Linked DNA regions of Homo sapiens: region 2 is linked to region 1. The links come from fine-mapping of genetic effects on gene expression. A gene starts in region 1. The other region holds a variant in brackets. All regions are shown on one strand. Distances are between the middles of the regions.

Region 1 (10,689 bases):
CCAACCTGGGCAACAAGAGGGAAACTCTATCTTAAAAAAAAAAAAAAACACTCACTATATCTAAGTTGATATGTTAACTATAAATGCTCCCATTTCTAAAAATTAAAAAAAAAACCCTATTAATTGTGGGGCAATAAAAATAATGTTTGCAGTCTGACCTTTTTTTTTTTTTGAGACAGAGTCTCACTCTGTCACCCTGGCTGGAATGCAGTGGCACGATCTCAGCTCACTGCAACCTCTGCCTTCCGGGTTCAAGCAATTCTCCTGCCTCAGTCTCTCAGTAGCTGGGATTACAAGCACATGCCACAATGCCCAGCTAATTTTTTTTGTATTTTTAATAGAGATAAGGTTTCTTTTTTTTTTTTGAGACGGAGTCTCGCTCTGTCGCCCAGGCTGGAGTGCAGTGGCGGGATCTCGGCTCACTGCAAGCTCTGCCTCCCGGGTTCACGCCATTCTCCTGCCTCAGCCTCCCAAGTAGCTGGGACTACAGGCGCCCGCCACTACGCCCGGCTAATTTTTTGTATTTTCAGTAGAGACGGGGTTTCACCGTTTTAGCCGGGATGGTCTCGATCTCCTGACCTCGTGATCCGCCCACCTCAGCCTCCCAAAGTGCTGGGATTACAGATGCAAGCCACTGTGCCTGGCCAGCAGTTTGACTTTTAACAAACTCTTCTGTATGGTAGAGCCACATAATCACAACTAAACTTAACGATGGTGTTTTTTCTTTAGGAGAAAAAGTTAATCTTTAAATTAAAGATACCTGTAATTCTTGGAGATCTCTCAGGCAGATGTCACCCAAGTATTCTACATAATATGATTTCCATCTAAAATGAAAAGAATTATATTTATATTTTTAAAGCTGGTATACTGCTTTTGCAAGTTTATTTTTTTTTTAAAGCAAAGGTATTTTAAAGGACAAGTAACAAGGGACAGAGTAACTATTAAATTAATTATCTTCTTTTAAAGTGCCAACAAAAAAAATCCATGACATAATTATATTGACAAGAGTTACATGACCTTCTAAAAAAAGAAAGTATTCAGCTGGGTGTTGTGGCTCACGCCTGTAATCCCAGCACTTTGGGAGGCCAAGGCAGGTGGATCACCTGAGGTCAGGAGTTCGAGCACCTGTAATCCCAGCTACTCGGAAGGCTGAGGCAGGAGAATCACTCCAACCAGGGAGGCAGAGGTTGCAGTGAGGTGAGATCGCGCCACTGCACTTGAGCCTGGGTGACAAGAAAATTCGTCTCAAAAAAAAAAAAAAGAAAGTAATCTAAGTAAACAGGTAGCAATAATTTAATCTCAATTCTCTCTCTCAGTTTGAAAGACCACTTCTTTTTTTTGTTTGTTTGAGACAGGGCCTCCCTCTGTCACCCAGGTTGGAGTGCAGTGTTGCCATCTCAGCTCACTGTAACCTCCACCTCACCCAGCTGAAAGCCTGCTTCTTTACTCCAGTATTTCTGTCCTTCAGATTCTCAACTACCACAATTTCAATCCTAAATGTTATGTAGATGTTGACCAAGCAAATTGTAACTGACTTAAAATTTAACTTTTACTACAAAATCACCTCCACTGTGGTAATCTAACACAGAATAATGCTAATATTTCAGATCTCACTTTACTCATGCTGTCGTGGCTCATTTATGTCACATTACTCATAAATGTCGTGGTGGTGCATGCCTGTAGTCCCAGCTACTTGGGAGGCTGAGGTGGGAGGATTTCTTGAGCACAGGAGGTTGAGGCTGCAGTGAGCCAAGATCACGCCACTACACTCCAGTCTAGGCGACAGAGTGAGACCCTGTCTTCAAAAAAGAAAAAAAAAAAGAAAAATTCCAGGACCACGTGTGGTGGCTCATGCCAGTAATCCCAGCACTTTGGTTTGGGAGGCCAAGGTGGGTGGACGGCTTCAGCTCAGGAGTTCAAAACAAGCCTGGGCAACATGGTGAAACCTCACTGCTACAAAAAACACAAAAATTAGCCAGGAATGGTGGCGCATACCTGTAATCCCAGCTACTCGGGAGGCTACGGCAGGAGAATTGCTTGATCTGGGAGATGGAGGCTGCAGTGAACCGAGACTGCACCACTGCACTCCAGCCTGGGCAACACAGTGAGACTCCGTGTCAAAAAAAAAAAAAAAAAAAAAGAAATTGCCCACAGGCTTTTCACCAACCAAATATTTAGGTGGGGAAAACTCCAGGCTCCTCCAAAAAAAAAAGAGAGAGAACTCCATTTCATACTAAATGTTCTAGGTGCAGATTTAAATGAAAATTTAATTTTTAATTATCTCAAAGTTAAATACCCAAATTCTACTTGAAAAAGTGGGCCGGGCACGGTGGCTCACGCCTGTGATCCCAACACTTTGGGAGGCTAAGGTGGCAGATCACAAGGTCAAGAGTTCGAGACCAGCCTAATCAACATGATGAAATCCTGTCTCTACTAAAAATACAAAAATTAGCTGGGCGTGGTAGCATGCGCCTATAATCCCAGCTACTCAGGAGGCTGAGGCAGGAGAATCGCTTGAACCCAGGAGGCGGAGGTTGCAGTGAGCCGAGATCGCGCCACTGCACTCCAGCCTGAGAGACAGAGCGGGACTCAAAAATAAAAATAAATAAATGAAAGAAAGAAAAAGTGCTGATCTTGTTCCAAGGGGACAATATTTCTTTTCTTTTCTTTCTTTTTTTTTTTTTTTGAGAGTCTTGCTGGAGTGCAGTGGCGCGATCTCGGCTCACTGGATTACAGGCGCCCGCCACCATGCCTGGCTAATTTTTTGTATTTTTAGTAGAGATGGGGTTTCACCGTGTTAGCCAGGATGGTCTCGATCTCCTGACCTCGTGATCCGCCCGCCTCGGCCTCCCAAAGTGAGGAGGATTATTTGAGTCCAGGAGATTGCAGCGAGCCATGATCACGCCACTGCCCTCCAACCAGCCTGGGTGTAATCCCAGCTGTAATCCCAGCTACTCGGGAGGCTAAGGCAGAACTGCTTGATCTGGGAGATGGAGGCTGCAGTGAACCGAGACTGCACCACTGCACTCCAGCCTGGGCAACACAGTGAGACTCCGTGTCAAAAAAAAAAAAAAAAAAAGAAATTGCTCACAGGCTTCTCACCAACCAAATATTTAGGTGGGGAAAACTCCAGGCTCCTCCAAAAAAAAAAGAGAGAGAACTCCATTTCATACTAAATGTTCTAGGTGCACATTTAAATGAAAATTTAATTTTTAATCATCTCAAAGTTAAATATCCGAATTCTACTTGAAAAAGTGGGCCGGGCACTTTTTCAAAAAAAATTTTTTTAAAGGTCATGCACAGTGGCTCACGCCTGTAATCCCAGCACTTTAGGAGGTCAAACCGGGAGGATAGCTTGAGCCCAGCAGTTCAAGACCAGCTTAGGCAACCTATTAAGATCACGTATCCACAAAAAATTTTACAAATTAGCCAGGTGTGGTGGTACGTGCCTGTGGTCCCAGCTACTTAGGAGGCTAAGAAAGGAGGATCACTTGAGCCCAGAAAGTCGGGGCTGCAGTTAGCTGTGATCGCCGCCACTGCACTCCAGCCTGGTGACAGCAACTTTGTCCCGCCCACCAAAAAAAAAAAAAAAAAAAATTTCCTCCAGAGCCAAAGTCACATGTTCAGGGGACCTAACAACCAACCATCCTGGGCTTGCCCACCACGCACAGAACACGTAAGTTTTAGTGAGTCTGAAGACGTTTACTCCAGATATGATCACTAGCGCTGAATTCAGGTCATTTACTAACTACACCTCCGAAGAAAAACGACTTGGCACAAAACTAGAAATCAGCAATTTCGTTTCAAAATCCTACACTTTGTATCTGTCTTTTCTAATACGGTGACCACTAGCCACATGTGGTTATTTAAATTTAATTACACTTAAAAAGTAAGTAAAATTTAAAATTTAGTTTCTCAGGTGCACTAGCCTACAGGTCAAATGCTTAACGGCCACGTGTGGCTAGTAGCTACCATGCTGAACAGCAAAGGTAAAGAACATGTCGCTATGACAGAAAGTTCTATGGGACCAGGCAATGAACAGTACTAAGGAGAAGTCATCCAAGAACGCGGCTGCCCAACCAGCTTCTGGCGAGGCGGCGGCACAGCTCCGGGGCCGCACATCCCTAGGGGCGCCGCGGGCTCCGGGATATTCGCGCGGACGCGGAGCCCGCGAGCTGGGGATACCCTCCACAGGCGGGCGTTAAACCGCGCGGGCAGCGCTGCGAGAGCTCCCAAAGATGACTCGAGTGGTGAGCCCCGAGGCGGCGCGTTTCCCCGCCGCGCCAGACAGGGAGAGAGGGCCTAGATGTGCCGGCGCCGGTTGGTCAGAGGCGGTGGCCTCTGACCTTTCCGAGAGCTGAGAAGGCGGCGGGAGGAAAAAAGGCAGACACACGCTGGGCGCCCGGCCGCTGACGGCGGGTAATGCTCGGACAACGTGCCGGCGACGGGGAGCGCCCGGGCCTCCCGGGCGACGGCGAAGGCGGAGTCCCGGCCCGGCCAGGGAGGCGCGCGGAGAGGCCCCCCCAGCGGCCAGCCAAGGTAAACAAGGCCGTGACGTGCGCCGCGCACTTACCGGGAGCTGCGGCCTCGCGGCCGCTGAGCCCGAACAAGCCAGACCGGGTCAGGCCGGGCCAGAGGGACCGGATTGGGGCGAAGCGGCAGCGGAGGCGGCGGGCCGACGCCGGTCAAGCCCGCGCTGCTTCCTCCAGAAGAGTCGTCCCCACAGCTCCGGAAGTGCTTGGCGCCGTTGCGTCACTTCCGGATCGGGGTCGACCCACGGTCGCTCGGGTCGCGACAGGCTCCCGGCTAGAGGGCCTGTTTAGCGCCGCCTCCTTGAAACTTAGCGCTCTGACCCAGAGTCTGACCAGGGTACGGCAGGCGCCGACCGCGTCTGGAGCCACTATTCGCCTACCAGCGTCTCCCGTCGAGATGTTTTTAACCAGCGCGTTTCTCACCGGCTTCTCATTTCACTGTTTGTACTCCGGGATCGGGCACGGAGAAGACATCCTGGCGTCAGTGGAGCAGATAACCATTGTTTCTCGGCCGCTATCTGGTCAGAGGGGAGCTGGGCCGGGAAATTCTGCCTACACCCCGAGGCGGTCGCAGGGTGGCCCCAGAGCCGCAACCACACCAGGCTTTCGCTTCCCCTGCCGAGGCCTCGTTCGCCGCGCAGTTCTCCGACTTACGGTCACCGTGCAAGATTGCATCTTAACTGCCTTGCTTGCAGTTTCTTTTCACAGTATAGGAGTTGTCATCATGACTTCCAGTTACCTTCTGGGACCGGTTGTCAAATGATGTGGCTAGAGACGGAGGCTCACTCAGATTGTTGCTGCACCACAATGGAAATGCCAGTATGAAGCCGCTGATGTTAGGAAGGCTCCAGGTTGTGCAATTCCATAGACAACAAATCAAATCATTTCCAACCATACTGGAGTCGCGTATATACATATTCAAGACACCTGTGCAGGCCGGGCGCGGTGGCTCAAGCCTGTAATCCCAGCACTTTGGGAGGCCGAGGCGAGTGGATCACGAGGTCAGGAGATCGAGACCATCCTGGCTAACACGGTGAAACCCCGTCTGTACTAAAAGTACAAAAAAATTAGCCGGACGTGGTGGCGGGCGCCTGTAGTCCCAGCTACTCGGGAGGCTGAGGCAGGAGAATGGCGTGAACCCGGGAGGCGGAGCTTGCAGTGAGTCGAGATGGCGCCACTGCACTCCAGCCTGGGCGACAGAGCGAGACTCTGTCTCAAAATAAAATAAAATAAAATAAAAAATAAAACAAATAAAGACACCTGTGCTGGCTGGTCGCTGTGGCTCATGCCTGTAATCCCTGCACTTTGGGAAGCCGAGGTGGGAGGATCGCTTGAGCCCAAGAATTTGATGTAGTGAGACCCCCCTCCTTTCTACAAAAAAATTAAAAATTAGCTGGGCGAGGTGGCACACACCTGTGCATCCCAGCTACTCAGGGGGCTGAGGTGATATAGGATCGCTTGAGCCGAGGAGGTCGAGGCTGCAGAGTGCCAAGATCGCACCACTGCAGTCCAGCATCGGTGATAGAAGGAGACCCTGTCTCAAAACAACAATAACAAACCATACAATGTAGAAAGCCATTAAAAATCATGCCGCGTGGCCGGGCACCGTGGCTCACGCCTGTAATCCCAGCACGTTGGGAGGCCGGAGCCGGCAGATCACGAGGTCAGGAATTCGAGACTGGCCTGACCAGCATGGTGAAACCCTGTCTCTACTAAAAATTTACAAAATTTGCCGGGCGTGATGGTGGGCGCCTGTAGTCCCAGCTACTCGGGAGGCTGAGGCAGGAGAATTGCTTGAACTCGGCAGGCGGAGGTTGCAGCGAGCAGAGATCGCGCCACTGCACTCCAGCCTGGGGGACAGAGCGAGACTCTGTCTCAAACAACAACAACAACAAAAACCTTGTCGGGTGGACTGCTCTGCCTATGGAGTAGCAATTACTTTTTTTTTTTTTTTTTTGAGACGGAGTCTCGCTCTGTCGCCCAGGCTGGAGTGCAGTGAGAGAGCCGCTATCTCCGCTCACTTCAACCTCCGCTTCCTGGGTTCAAGTGATTCTCCTGCCTCAGTCTCCCGAGTAGCTGGGACTACAGGCGCGCACCACCGCGCCCAGCTAATTTTTTTTTTTTTTTTTTTTTTTTGACGGAGTCTCTCTCTGTTGCCCAGGCTGGAGTGCAGTGGCGCGATCTAGGCTCACTGCAAGCTCCGCCTCCCGGGTTCACGCCATTCTCCTGCCTCAGCTTCCCGAGTAGCTGGGACTACAGGCGCCCGCCACCACGCCTAATTTTTTTTGTATTTTTAGTAGAGACGGGGTTTCACCGTGTTAGCCAGGATGGTAATTTTTGTATTTTTAGTAGAGACAAGGTTTCATCATGTTGGCCAGGATGGTCTGGATCTCTTGACTCCTTGATCCGCCCACCTCGGCCTCCCAAAGTTCTGGGATTACAGGCGTGAGCCACTGCTCCTGGTCTCCTTTGTTTCTTTACTTCTCTAATAAACTTGCTTTCACTTTACCAAAAAAAATGAAATAAATCATACTGGGTGGCAGGGCATGGTGGCTCAAGCCTGTAATCCCAGCACTTTGGGAAGCCAAGGTGAGAGGATTGCTTGAGCCCAGGAGTTGGAGACCAGCCTGGGCAACATAGTGAGATTCCATGTCTACAAAAAAAAGAAAAAGTTTTGGCCAGGTGTGGTGGCTCACGCCTGTAATCCCAGCACTTTGGGAGGCTGAGGCAGGTGGATCACTTGAGCCTAGGAGTTCAAGACCAGCCTGAGCAACATGGTGAAACCCCGTCTCTACAAAAAATACAAGTTAGCTGGATGTGCTTATAGCTCCACCTACTTGGGAGGCTGAGGTGGGAGGATCACTTAAGACCCAGGATGTGGAGGCTGCAGTGAGCAAGAGATCGGGCTACTGCACTCCAGCCTGGGGGACAGAGCCAGAACCTGTCTTCAAAAAAAGAAAAAAAAATGCTGTACTAAGGCACCTATTGACAAGGAAAGGTTATTTGTGATATACTCAAGTGATAAGAATAGGATAGGGGCCGGGTGTGGTGGCTCACACCTGTAATCCCAGCACTTTGGGAGGTGGAGGCGGGCGGATCGCCTGAGGTCAGGAGTTCCAGACCGGCCTGACCAACATGGCAAAACCCTGTCTCTACTAAAAAATACAAAAATTAGCCAGGCATGGTGGTGCATGCCTGTAATTCCAGCTACTCGGGAGGCTGAGGCAGGGAGAATAACTTGAACCCGGGAGGCGGAGGTTGCAGCGAGCCGAGATTGCACCACTGCACTCCAGCCTGGGCAACACAGTAGCTCTGTCTCAAAAAAGAAAAAGTAAATAAAATATGAATGCATATAAAATATACAAAGTCTCTCATGGTTTCTTTGGAACAGGAATCCAGACAAGCCACAATGGGAAGGTTTATCTCAGCTCCACAGCTGAGGGGGCCTCAGCAAGAAGACTCAAAGACTGGGGAGTGGAATCATAGGCAAAGTTGTTTACTCATACTTCTGGTGGGTGATGTCAGCTGGGGGCCTAGCTGGGGCTGTCAGCCAGAACATACACATGCATGATCTCTCCATGTGGCCTGTGCTTCCTGGTAACATGGTGGCTGGATTTGAAGGGCAAAGGTCTTTTTTTTTTTTTTTTTGAGACAGAGTATCACTCTATCGCCCAGGCTGGAGTGCAGTGGCATGATCTCAACTCACTGCAACCTCCTGGGTTCAAGTGATTCTTGTGCCTCAGCCTCCATAGTAGCTGAGATGTCAGGATGACAGGCGTGCACACCATGTTCAGCTATTTTTTCTGTTTTTTTTTCTTTGAGATGGAATTTTGCTCTTGTTGCCCAGGCTGCAGTACAATGGTGCGATCTCGGCTCACCACAACCTCCGCCTCCCGGATTCAAGCAATTCTCCCCGCTCAGCCTCCCAGGTAGCTAGGATTACAGGCATGCACCACCATGCCTGGCTAATTTTGTATCTTTAGTAGAGACGGGGTTTCTCCATGTTGGCCAGGCTGGTCTTGAACTCCTGACCTCAAGCCATCTGCCTGCCTCGGTCTCCCGAAGTGCTGGGATTACAGATGTGAGCTGCCAGGCCCAGTCAATTTTTGTATTTTTAGTAGAAATGGGATTTCACTGCCAGGCGCGGTGGCTCACACTTGTAATCCCAGCACTTTGGGAGGCCGAGACGGGCAGATTGCCTGAGGTCGGCAGTTCGAAACCAGCTTGCCCAACATGGTGAAACCCCGTCTCTACTAAAAAATACAAAAATTAGCCGGGCTTGGTGGTGGGCACCTGTAATCCCAGCTACTTGGGAGGCTGAGGCAGGAGAATTGCTTGAACCTGGGAGGTGGAGGTTGCAGTGAGCCAAGATCGCGCCACTCGTGCCACTGCACTCCAGCCTGGGCGACAAAGTGAGACTCTGTCTCGAGAAAAAAAAAAAAAAAAGAAAGAAATGGGGTTTCACCATGTTGGCCAGGCTGGTCTAGAACCCCTGGTCTCTAGTGATTTGCCTGTCTCAGCTTCCCAAAATTCTGGGATAACAGGTGTGAGCCACTCTGGCCGGCCAAGGGCAAGGGTCTTAAGAGAGTGAGAGCCAAGTGGAAGCCATGTTGCCCTTTGTGGCCTAACCTTCAAAGTCACACGGCATTACATCTGCCACATTTTATTAGTCAAAGCAGTTACAAAGATCCTCTCAGGTTCAAGGGGAGGGAATGCAGCTCCACCGTCAATGGAGAAACACCAACACTGCATTATAAGCAAAGCATATAAAATGAGATACAGGTTGGTGTAGCCATTTTTGGAAAATATGTGTCACAAAGCACATATTGCATATATCAGTATATCTCTCATCTTATTCATCTTTGTTTTTATTGAATTTAATTATGCAACTAATGTAATGATAACATGAAGTTGTAAAAATGTAATACAAGAATACTGATAGCAGCTTGTGAATACTCCCGTTAATATACTCCACCTTTCTTTTCTCCTATTTGGGGTTGTTGCCACTGTCCAGAGTTTGGTGTGCATCCTTCTAGGACACTTTCTATGCATCTAAATACAGTACATGTCGGCCGGGTGCAGTGGCTCATGCCTGTAATCCCAGCACTTTGGGAGGCCGAGGCAGACGGATCATGAGGTCAGGAGTTCGAGAACAGCCTGACCAACATAGTGAAACCCTGTCTCTACTAAAAATACAAAAATTAGTCAGGCATGGTGGCACATGCCTGTAATCCCAGCTACTCAGGAGGCTGAGGCAAGAGAATTGCTTGAACTCGGGAGGCAGAGGTTGCAGTGAGCCGAGATCGCTCCACTGTACTCCAGCCTGGGCAACAGAACAAGACTCTGTCTCAAAAAAATAAAAATAAAAAATAAATAAATAAATTCAGTGTATGTCTATATTTATAGCTACCCACACACACATTTACACAAAGCTTTTCATTAGTAACCTTTTCATTAGTAGCAGGCTATTGCAAATATCATTCTGCTGCTTTTTTCACTTAGTAGAAGCTGCTATTATTATCCCCATTTCACAAACAAGTGATCAAACTAAAGTACTTTTTTTTTTTGAGACGGTGTCTAGCTCTATTGCCCAGGCTGGAGTGCAGTGGCACAATCTTGGCTGACTGCAACCTCCACCTACCGGGTTCCAGCGATTCTCCTGCCTCAGCCTCCCATGTAGCTGGGATTACAGGCACGCACCACCATGCCTGGCTAATTTTTGTATTTTTAGTAGAGACAAGGATTCACCATGTTGGTCAGGCTGGTCTCGAACTCCTGACCTAAAGTGATCCACCAACCTCTGCCTCCCAAAGTGCTGCAATTACAGGCATGAGCCACCATGCCCATCCAAGCTAAGATTCTAACCCCAGGCATCTGAATCCAGAGCCTACCCTTTTGACAGTGCTGTAACCCTTCTGAGTATATAACAGTATAAATGTATTATATTTGAGCAGTCTCCAATTGCAAGTCATCTGTTTCCAATTTTGTTTTGTTTTGAGATAGAGTCTTACTCTGTCACCCAGGCTGGAGTGCAGTGGCGCTATATCGGCTCACTGCAACTTCCGCCACCCAGGTTCAAGCAATTCTCCTGCCTCAGCCTACCGAGTAGCTGGGACTACAGGTGCATGCCACCATGCCTGGCTAATTTTTGTATTTT
Region 2 (10,689 bases), 400 kb after region 1:
ATGACTGTGGTATCTCCCTAGGGCGTCTGTGAGGAAATGACCTACGAGGAAATTCAGGATAATTATCCACTGGAGTTCGCCCTGCGGGACCAGGACAAGTACCGGTACCGGTACCCTAAAGGGGAGGTAGGTGGGATTTGGGGCTTAGTCCCAGCCACCTACTGCCCGCCTGGGAGTACCACCTGTGGCTGAGGGCCTGTGGGGCTCTGCAGGGGCTGCGTGGGTAGCAGAAGGGGCCTGGTCTCAGAGGCCTGCCAGCCTGGGTGTGTGGTTCATCTCCACCCCTTCCCAGCTATGCAGCCCAGGCCTTAGTCCCTTCCTCAGGTGTGGAGTGGGCAGTGCCATGTAGGGCAGGCCTTCAACCTGGAGACCTTTGGCTCCCTGCTCTCCATTCTTGTCTTTCCCCTTCCCAGGGGTGGAGAATTCGGAAGGGCAGGGCCTGAGGTGGGGGATCTGCGGAGTTAGGCTTTCCTGGGACCCCTGTAGACAGTGTGCGGTCCCCTGGCATTCCCAGGCCAGCTCCTTTCCCAGCGAGTTGTCAGCCCTTTCCGGGGCGCTCAAATGGCTGGGGAGTTGGGGAGACCATGGCAGGCCTGGGACTCGGGTCTCAGCTCACTCGAGTCCCTGTCTCGGGCCTCATCCTTCCTTTGGATGCTTCCTCTTGTCACAGGCTGAGCCCATCCTGTCCTTCCTGTGGCTCCAGGCACCACCCCCAGCCCTGGCACCAGACCCAGGGAGACCTTCCACACATGAGTTGGCTACCACAAGCCACTGCACTTGTCACCTTCTCTGACACAGTTCAGCCCAGGCCCCAGGTCAGAAACTGAGGGTCACCTTTGACTGAGGCATCTCCTTCCACTTCCAGGAGGTGGCCTGGGGCAGGGGCCAAATAAAAATACACCCCGTCAACACACATATGTACACATATATATACACATGTAGAAGCACCTCCACCCAGAAGCCAGGCTGACAGGTCTCTACACTGTACCATCCTCAGGATAGTATAGCTCTTGGGAACATTAATTATTCCCCACATTATGTTAGGCCAAGTTCAGATTTAGAACCAACCCAGATAACGGTCAGGAGAAACAAAGCAGCTGGCTGCTCAAACATGAGAATACAGTGAGGAGAATTGGTTGAGAAATTCATGTTACCAAAAGAACCGGTCTAGGATTTTCTCAGAACTACCAGGAACTGGCACAAATCAGCGTGTCATTTTTGCTTCCTAATCAAAGCTTGGGGCACGTTCAGTTCTGACTGCTGGAGGCCATTTTTGAAGGACCACTCATTGTGTGCAGAAGGATGAAACTGATGAAAATCTCTAAACCTGCCAGGTTGAGAGGCCCAGCAGGGGCCTAAACCGTACATCACGGCAGGCATAGGGGGAAGATACTGGGCAGGTAGACTGAGGATAGTTCCTGGGGACCCCAGCTGTTTCTGATGAGTCACACTCCAGAAAGTTCCAGGTCTTTGCTCTCTTCCCCTTCGCTCTTGTCAGTGCACTCTGTTTGCTGTGGGCTGGAAGCAGGCGAGGTCTTCTCCACCAGTCACATGAATTCTATAGCTGAGGATTCAGTGCAGAGCCCCATGGGTGGGCACTGAGGTGGACCCTGGGATGGAGCCTGAGGCCTAGCTCTGCGCTCTCAATCCTACCAGGACCTAGCCCTGAGGTGGGAAAGGTGGCCCCTTTCCTCAGCTGCCCACCCCCATGGCCTCAGAAGGCTAGGCTGGAGGAGGCCCAGCCACAGCTTCCCAGAATGGTGAGTAGCTGCAGGAGTGGAAGGTGGCCCAGTGTCCAGGATGTGTCTGTCCCTCCCCCGGAGCCAGGCCTGAGGGACCCCTCTCTGCTTGCCCTTGCAGTCCTACGAGGACCTGGTCCAGAGACTGGAGCCTGTCATCATGGAGCTGGAGAGGCAAGAGAATGTGCTGGTCATCTGCCACCAGGCTGTGATGCGCTGCCTGCTGGCCTACTTCCTCGACAAGGCAGCAGGTGTGGGCTGTGCCCCGGGGGAGGTGGGAAGGTTGTGTGAGAAGGTAGGCACTGTCACCAGGCATTTCTGGTGTGCTAGCCATCCCCCTCTGTGTCTACAGAACAGCTGCCCTACCTCAAGTGTCCGCTGCACACAGTCCTGAAGCTGACTCCTGTGGCATATGGTAAGGAAGCTTCCTGCACATTGACCATGGGTAGCCATGACCTTGGATCTCTGCACAGTTCCATGATTTTCTCCGAATTCCTTGAAAATTGTGTTAGGAGCCCATTCCTCCACCTACTACCCCACCACCTTTCCCAATTTGCTTTTTTTCTTTGAGACGGAGTCTCGCTTTGTCACCCAGGCTGGAGTGCAATGGCGTGATCTAGGCTCACTACAACCTCCACCTCCCGGGTTCAGATGATTCTCTTGCCTCTGCCTCCCGAGTAGCTAGGATTACAGGCGCCTGCCACCATGCCCAGCTAATTTTTGTATTTTTAGTAGAGACAGAGTGTCACCATGTTGTCAGGCTGGTCTCGAACTCCTGACCTTAGGTGATCTACCTGCCTCGGCCTCCCAAAGTGCTGGGATTACAGGCGTGAGCTACCATCATGAGCTACCATCTGCGGCCCTAATTTGCTTTTAAAAAGTTTGTTCTGGGGCTGGGTGCGGTGGCTCATGCCTGTAATCCCAGCACTTTGGGAGGCCGAGGTGGGTGGATCACGAGGTCAAGAGATAGAGACCCTCCTGGCTAACATGGTGAAACCCCATCTCTACTAAAAATACAAAAAAATTAGCTGGGCGTAGTGGCGGGCACCTGTAGTCCCAGCTACTTGGGAGGCTGAGGCAGGAGAATGGCATGAACCCGGGAGGCGGAACTTGCAGTGAGCCGAGATCGCACCACTGCACTCCAGCCTGGGCGACAGAGCGAGACCCTGTCTCAAAAAAAAAAAAAAAGTTTGTTGTGAAAAAGTTTATGTGGCCACAGAAGACCTCCCCAGTGACTTTGCTTAACCATTGCCTACCTGCATGAGGGGCTTTTCTACTGATTTTTCTGAACCCCCACAAGGCCCCTTGGTCCTCAGGGCCTGGACTTTATTCTGGGTGCAGGGCAGTGTGAGTCCCCACCCTGCCTCTTGCTATACCAGCAGAGACTTCAGGCAACTTCTTCATCTCTCAGGTCTTAGCTCTTCACCTTTAACACAGGTGCTCTTGGGGGAATGGCTGTGAAGCCCAGTGGCAGCTGATGTCACTCCAGTGTGTGACAATGGCCTCATCCCCCATTGCACTGTGCACCTGGCACACGGTTGACTGGGCCTTATATGGTAGAGTTGGAATGTGGGTGGTTTGGGGGCCCTGAAGACTTTGAGAGTCAGTAACCTCAACTTAGGCCTGCTGTTCCCCCGATCCCTCTCGGTCCTGGGGTTGGGGAGCCTGGGGCCTCTGTGTGGCCCTGTCTGGGCCGTCACATAGATATGCGTGGGTCTGACAGCGTGTCTCATCCTTCCTCCCGGGGCTCCCCAGAGCTGCCTAAAGTGGAAGAACTAGAGTGAGGCTGAGATGGCTGCTCCATTCCACACGCCCAGACCCCCCTCCAAGAGAAGTTTCTAGCATCTGCAGCTCAGCTGCCTTTCAGGAGTGGGGATGGATTTGCATCTTCCCTTTGGCAGGTTGTAAAGTGGAGTCCATATTCCTGAACGTGGCTGCTGTGAACACGCACCGGGACAGGCCTCAGGTAGCAATGGGGTCACTGCTGGGGTAGCGGGGTGTTCCTGATGTGGGGGTGTCCAGACTGCACATCCTCCAGGGCCAGGCCCAGCTGCGGCACCTGCCAGAGGGAGCTTGAGTCTTCTGCCAAGACTGTTGTCCCATCAGCAGGGCGGGGCCCTGGCTCTGGGTGGGGCCTGCATCAGGCCTTCCCAAGGCACCTGCCCTGGGGATGGGGAAATCCCTGACTCTGGGCCACCAGGCTCAGGAGTGCCTGAACTTGGGTGTGGTTGGAGCCCCAGGACTTGAGGAGCCACAGGGCTCCCAAGCAGCAACTTGGAGGTCTAAGTCAAGGGGGCCCTTGGGCTCAGTGAGAATGAGGCTGGAGGCTAAGAATGAGGCTTCTGGCCTTCTGAGGGCAGGTGGGCACTCTTCCCACTCCCCATCCCTGCAGCCGAGGCCTCATGAGCCCCTTTCCTAACCCCAGCACCTTTAAAAATTAAAATGGGATCATGTACTTTTGGGGAAAGGGCCATGCAGATACTGAAGGGGCCTCAGCATGGGGTGGAGACCTTGGTCCAGAAAAGCAGTCACCACCTGTGCTCCCCAAGTGCCTTGTGGAAGGTAGAAGCTCCTCAGAGTGTAGCTCAGAACCACTCTTAGTCCCATGTGGGGTCCCTCCACAATGTTGGCTCCCTCTCCCACTGGGGCCAAGGATAGGACCTACACTTCTGGGAGCCCCGGTCCCAGTTCCTGGAGGCCACTGCACGGAGAAGGCTCTTGGGCCTCAGTCATGCCTCTTGCCATCCATGATGGGGCCTGCTTGGGCTCTGGGTCCCTGCTGAGGATGCACGTCTTGGGCTGGACCAGGACATCTGGCCTTGGACCTCACAGCACAGGTGTGTAGATGTGTCCTGTCCCTTCCCAACACCACTGCCCCCAAGCAGGACCAGTTACCCTGCAGGCCTCTCTTCCCATTGCTCTGATAGTTCGTGCATGTCTTGGCCAAGTTCAGCCCAGGCCCAATTTGGTACCCACAAGTCACAGGGGAACGTACCTCCCAACGGGCATCCTTTGGGCCAAGGAAGGCCCAGATGGCACTGGGCCCCCAGCGCTGACAGAGTGATGGTAAGAGAGGCCCCTGGGTTGGCAGGGTGATGGTAAGAGAGGTCCCTGGGCCTGGCAGCCCTTGGGAGCTGACCCTACCAGTCCATCACCATAGTGTGGCTGGCGGTCATTCTGCCCACTATGGGTGGGTGCTTCTGAGAGGCAAACCGCTACTAACCCCAGGTTCCTGGATGGCTCCCTTCTGGCCCATCCATTGGGGCAGGCTGTGGTGGAAAAGGGGCGCCTCAGGAAGCCTGCCCAGCAGTAAGAATTATACCTGCCCCTACAATTCCAGGGGCCGGTCCTATGAGCCCAGGCTGTGGGCCATGGGGGCCATGTCTCTCTCCCTGAAGATCTGGGCATGTCATGTTGCATGGGGCAGCAGCTCAGGTCATCAGTGACCTGCTCCTGCAGGTGATGGTTCCGGGGCCCACAGCTGGGAGGAGGGGCCACCAGGCTCTGGGGCACATAAGACAGCCTCAGAGAGCTAAGGGAAGTTTCAGATTCCCTATTCCTCAGGCCTGAGACTCCCTGAGCCCGACAGGCCAAGGATGGGACTGAGCTCTGCAGTTTGGTGGGGTCCTTCTATAGCTGAGGGCTTCAGGAGGCCCTGTACCCCAGTTCTGAGGGGACAGACCAGGCTGCAGACCAGGAAATGCCCATAGGCTTCTGGGGCACCTCTGACACCTGCGTGCCAACACTTTAAACTAGGAAGGAGGCACCCCCAGGAGTTGAACCCCTTCCCTGCCCCACAGATGAGGATAAAATCCCCAAGCCAGGGGTTCCTCCTCAATTGACTCAGCCCTGAGATAGGAGGTGGGAGTGGCCTTGCTTTGGGTATTGCCTGACCTGGCTGCAGTGGAGCAGGAAACGAGGTGGCATCCTCCACCGCACCTTTGTTCTATTGTCCATCCACCCGCTATGTGGCACGAAGCTCTTGGCCATGTATTCTTAGGGAAGCTTGTGGTCTAGAGTCTTGCGGCTGTGGCTGCTACAGTGAGAATGTGAAGCCTGATGAACCACAGTGATGAGGACGGCAGACAGCAGGCATCTCATCTATTCCTGCCATGGAGTGAACGCTCTGTGTTTTTATTGTACAGAACGTGGACATCTCAAGACCTCCAGAGGAAGCCCTTGTCACGGTGCCTGCTCACCAGTGACCATGTTCATCCAC[T/C]GTGACCACTAGGCAGGCACTGCTCTCTGCAGAGGGGGTCATTCCAGGCCCTCCAGTGTGTGTGATAGTCACCATGCCATGCAGGGATATTCTTGAAGCCACACATGGCTGGCGGAACCCAGAGCCCCCACCCCAGCCCACCTGGCTCTTTGTTGACAGTCGGCGACAAGGTTGTGCGTGGCTCCTGACCTGCTGCTAAGAGTCACTTGACCAGACTGCATCTGCATGGGCTGCGCGGAGGTTGCCCAGCCCCAGTTTCTTCCGGCGCAGCTCTTAGGTGTTCACTCTCGCCAGCTCAGTTGGCTTTGTGAAGTGTGAAACCCTACAATGTGAAAGGAAAGTGCTTGCTGTGATGTTCCTACTGTGGCCCAGCTGCCCAGCATGGACCTGGTGACTCTCCACAGGGCCTCTACCATCCTCTCTGTGGCCACTTCCTGAGCCAGAGGCCAGGTCTTCATGGGGCCCTGAGCTTCTGCTGCCTCTGGTGAGAGGGAGAGCCCTTCCCATCCTTACCCACCAGGAACTAGAGCCCCAACCACAGCAGATGCTTCCTGGGCAGCCACTGGCCAGGCCGTTGTATCCATGTCACCCTTAGTTGTGGGCATTCATGAAAGCAATGCGCTTGCTTCAGCACATTGGGATGCACAGAAACGTGAGGGCAGGGGGGCAGTTGTGGTCGCCCCTCCCCAGTTGTGCATGTACCCGGCTACTTAGGTATGCTTAGGGGAGCTGGTGGCCAGGGGTGCCCCTTCAGGCCTGCTCTCACAGTGAAACCACTTCAAGACAGGGCAGGAAGTTACCTTCCTGGTGCACACACCGAAGTGCTCGAGGGAGAGGCTGCCGCCCCCTCTCCCCTTCCCTGGCTGTGGACACTGGCAGCCAATGGGGAGGCGGCCTCTCCCCTGTTGCTGCCCGTGTCCACACAGGAATGTACACTGGTGGCAGAAACATGCATTTGCCATAAATAATTCAGAAACACTTGTATGGTCCTGTAAAACTTCTCTGGTGTTTGTTGACTTCTGCCTGTGGGTCTGAGGAAGGGAGAAGGCAGAACCCATAGGCAGTCCCTGGGCAAGGGAGGATTTTCCCGGCCGCAGCACAGCCTTCCATTCATGTGCACGTGAGTCTGGTGAAAATGGCCTTGTGAAGTCCAGTGTCTGTCATGCCCCTGAGTTCTTTTGGTCCCAGAGAGGCAGCCTGGGCAGTCTGTTTACAGCTGGCAAACAGACTGGCTGGCAAGTTGTGGGGCTGGGTCAGAAAGTGTCTGGACTTGTAATCGGGTGCCCTGCTGTCCACAGGTGGACTCTGGGGAAGCCAGGCCCCTGGATCCCAAGTCCTTTGTGTCCGGAGCCTTTCCTGGCCTGTGCCTGGAGGGTAGCACATCTTTCCAGCCTCCCAGGGCTTTGCAGCCTGCAGATGCCACCTGTCCCTGAGAGAAGTTAGCGTCCCTGGCCCTGGCCGGTGGTCTCTCATCCTTGTGTGCTGCTCTGCTAAGAGATGTCCAAGGCGGAGCCGGGGCAAGATCCTTCCAGACTCATCTGTCAGAGCCCCAAGCCCTTTAGACCCAGAGCCCAAGGACCATGCCTTTGGGACATTAGGACTGCAGCCTTTGCTTCTGTGTATTTTGGAGTTTTGGTGACTTTTGTCACCTGGACACACTCATTTGTTAGCCATAGTGGGTTCCCTTGGTCAGCAACAGTGCATGTACCTCTGGATGTCATCTGAGGTGAGACCACCGAGGCCTTTTCTCTCTGTGTACAGAGGGGAGTTAGGAGTTGCTGGACTGGATGCATTACGAGGACTGGGGACAGGGTAGAGGGACATCCAGGGATCAGGGCATGAGTGGGGGCAACCCCCCGGCCTCTGCCCTGGCATGGTCTCCGCATGGGCTGAGGTGTAGCTGATTGGCTGCCACATTTCGGCCATGCTGGCTGGCGTGCCCATGTTGCAGATATTTTCCCGAGTTCCCCAGAATGGATGGTATTGAATCTCAGCCACATGCAACACTGTGTCCAGCATTCTTTGCAATAAATACTTTTTAAAAAATAATCTCAGGTTGTATTTGGTAGCCAGTTCTCCATTTCTGAAGTGTTTTTTTTCTGGCCTGCTCTGTCGACACCTGGTGCTGTGGTCTTCCTCGCAGGTCTGTGTTGGGATCCTTCGTTCAGCTTCCACCCCCATGTTCACTCTCACTGAAGAGGAATTATGCTGCCCTGGAGTGAGTCCTGGCCTGGCATACATGGGCAGGCGGCCTGGGTCTTCCCTGGGCTGACCTGGGGTATGGGGCCCTTGGCCCTGAACATGAGGCAGATGTGGAGGGGGCAGTGCAGCTGGAGTGGAGCACTGTTAAGGGAAGGATTCTGGGGTCCCTGGGAATGTGGGCTCCAAATGCGGCATTCTTGGGGAGGAGGCCCCGGGAGCTGGGTCAAGGATGTAGTGGCTGCGTGAGGCTGTGGTGACAGTATGCTGACCAGTGTTTTGGTATTTTCTTTTTCTTTTTTTATTTTTATTTTTTGGAGACGGAGTTTCACTCTTGTTGGCCAGGCTGGAGTGCAATGGCACGATCTTGGCTCACCACGACCTCCGCCTCGGGTTCAAGCAATTCTCCTGCCTCAGCCTCCCCGAGCAGCTGGGATTACAGGCATGCACCATCATACCCAGCTAGTTTTTATATTTTTAGTGGAGACAGGGTTTTTCCATGTTGGTCAGGCTTGTCTTGAACTCCCAACCTTAGGTGATGCACCCGCCTTGGCCTCCCAAAGTGCTGGGATTACAGGCGTGAACCACTGCACCCGGCCTATTCTGGTATTGTCTTTGTCACCTGCATCTGGGGTCGGGAAGGTGGAGACAAGGGGCTGGGTGTTCTCTTTCCCATGCCTCAGAACATCATGGGCTGTCCATACTTCCTGCCCTGGAGCTGGCTTTCCGGGAAGTGGGTTGTAGGCGGGGCTCCTCTGTGGGCAAGATGGGGCAGGGCATTGCCGGGTGTTCGCCTGTGCTCCTCCCAGTGTGTCAGGGCAGAGGATGGCTGTCGCTGGGCTGCTTCTGGGTGGTTTGGGGTGGCCAGCAGCTATGTTTCTGCCTTCTCCAACTATGCCAAGGTGTCTGAGGGAGAGGCAACTTTGCAGGATTCAGGTGGTGACTAACCTCTGCCTGGTGAGAGCCTGGGGGACAGCTTCGGGGGTCCTCACCTGTCTCTTGGCTCTGAGTTCCTAGGGTGGACACCTGACTCCCTTTGAGGCTTCTCAGCACTTTTGGAAGAAGGTTTTGAAGATTTTAGTAGAAAACAATAAAAGGAATGAAATATAACAATATCAGAGTTTTTCTTCAGGTCCAGTGTTGTACCATAACCTAGAAAGGGCAATTATATTATTATGTTGAGTAGCATTTTGGGTTACTGGGAAATAATAGCCATCATATAGGGTCACAGGATATTTGTTTTTTATTTTATTTTATTTTTTTGAGACGGAGTTTCACTCTTGTTGCCCAGGCTGGAGTGCAATGGCGTGATCTCCGCTCACTGCAACCTGCCCCTCCTGAGTTCAAGCAATTCTCCTACCTCAGCCTCCCAAGTAGCTGGGATTACAGGCATGCGCCACCATGCCCAGCTAATTTTGTATTTTTAGTAGAGATGGGGTTTCTTCATGTTGTTCAGGCTTGTCTAGAACTCCTGACCTCAGGTGATCTGCCCGCCTTGGCCGCCCAAAGTGCTGTGATTACAGGCGTGAGCCACTGCACCTGGCTATTTTCATTTTTTCTTACACCAATAAGAATGAGCTTGAAAGGATCAGATAATATTTGGATAGAATCAAATATTGTTGCAAAGACATAGGTAGGTTTCAGCAATATTGGATTTATATCTAAAAATATATATATAATACTTCTTACTTGCAGAGAAGAGTGTTGCCATATTTGGTTTAGACTGATCATTACTGGGTACATTATTGTTTAAACGAAACTATTTTATCTTATTTTTGTAAAAACGGGGTCTTGCACCGAACACAGTAGTTCACACCTGTAATCCCAGTGCTTTAAGAGGCCGAGGTGGGAGAGTTGTGTGAGCCCAGGAGTTTGAGACCAGCCTGGGGAGCATAATGAGACCCTATCTCTACAAAAAAAATTTTCAAATGACTAAGTGTGGTGGCACGTGTCTACAGTCCTAGCTACTTGGGAGGCTGAGACAAGAGAATACTTGAGCCCAGAAGTTGGAGGTTGCAGTGAGCCGGGGTCAGGCCACTGCAACCTGGGCGACAAAATAAGACCCTCTCTCAAAGGCAAAAACAAAAACAGGATCTTGCTCTGTAGCTCTGGCTGGTTATGAACTCATGACCAAGCGATCCTCCTGCCTCAGCCTCCTGAGTAGCTGGGATTACAAGCACGTACCACTGTATTGGCAAAACTATTTTATTAAAAGTGAAAAATGAGGTGGGGTACAGCGGCTCATGGCTGTAATCATTTGAGATTAGCCTGGGCAGCATAATGAGACCTTGTCTCTACAAAAAGATCAAAAACTTAGCTGGGCATGGTGGTGCGTGCCTGTAATCCCAGCTACTCAGGAGTCTGAGGGGGGGAGGACCGCTTGAGCCCAGTAAGTTGAGGCTGCAGTGAGCTATGATTTTGCCACTGCACTCCAGCATGAGTGACAGAGCGAGACTCTGTCTCAAAAAACAGAAAAGTGAAAAATGGCTTTGTGGTAGACCACAAGTATATCTGCCACACCTGGCTTGTGGC

The links.
Region 2: its variant is fine-mapped to the expression of ARIH2 in fibroblasts (GTEx, PIP above 0.99).

What each region holds. Positions count from the first base shown.
Region 1 is chr3:48,912,883-48,923,571 of GRCh38, reverse strand. ARIH2 (ariadne RBR E3 ubiquitin protein ligase 2) reads right to left here and starts at 4,730. Exons shown (of 16, transcript NM_006321.4): 1 at 4,574-4,730; 2 at 761-824. It overlaps ARIH2OS (ARIH2 opposite strand lncRNA), which reads left to right and starts at 4,187. Exons shown (of 1, transcript NR_161301.1): 1 at 4,187-5,784. RefSeq lists enhancers at 1,416-1,916, 3,600-4,350, 4,351-5,102, 4,828-5,297, 5,103-5,853 and silencers at 4,408-4,487, 4,558-4,657.
Region 2 is chr3:48,515,002-48,525,690 of GRCh38, reverse strand. It overlaps PFKFB4 (6-phosphofructo-2-kinase/fructose-2,6-biphosphatase 4), which reads left to right. Exons shown (of 14, transcript NM_004567.4): 10 at 22-126; 11 at 1,861-1,990; 12 at 2,092-2,154; 13 at 3,641-3,705; 14 at 5,885-8,007. The coding sequence ends at 5,944. Among named protein-coding and RNA genes, the nearest start is that of SHISA5, 16 kb to the right of the region's middle. The variant T/C (reference allele first, on the strand shown) is at 5,959.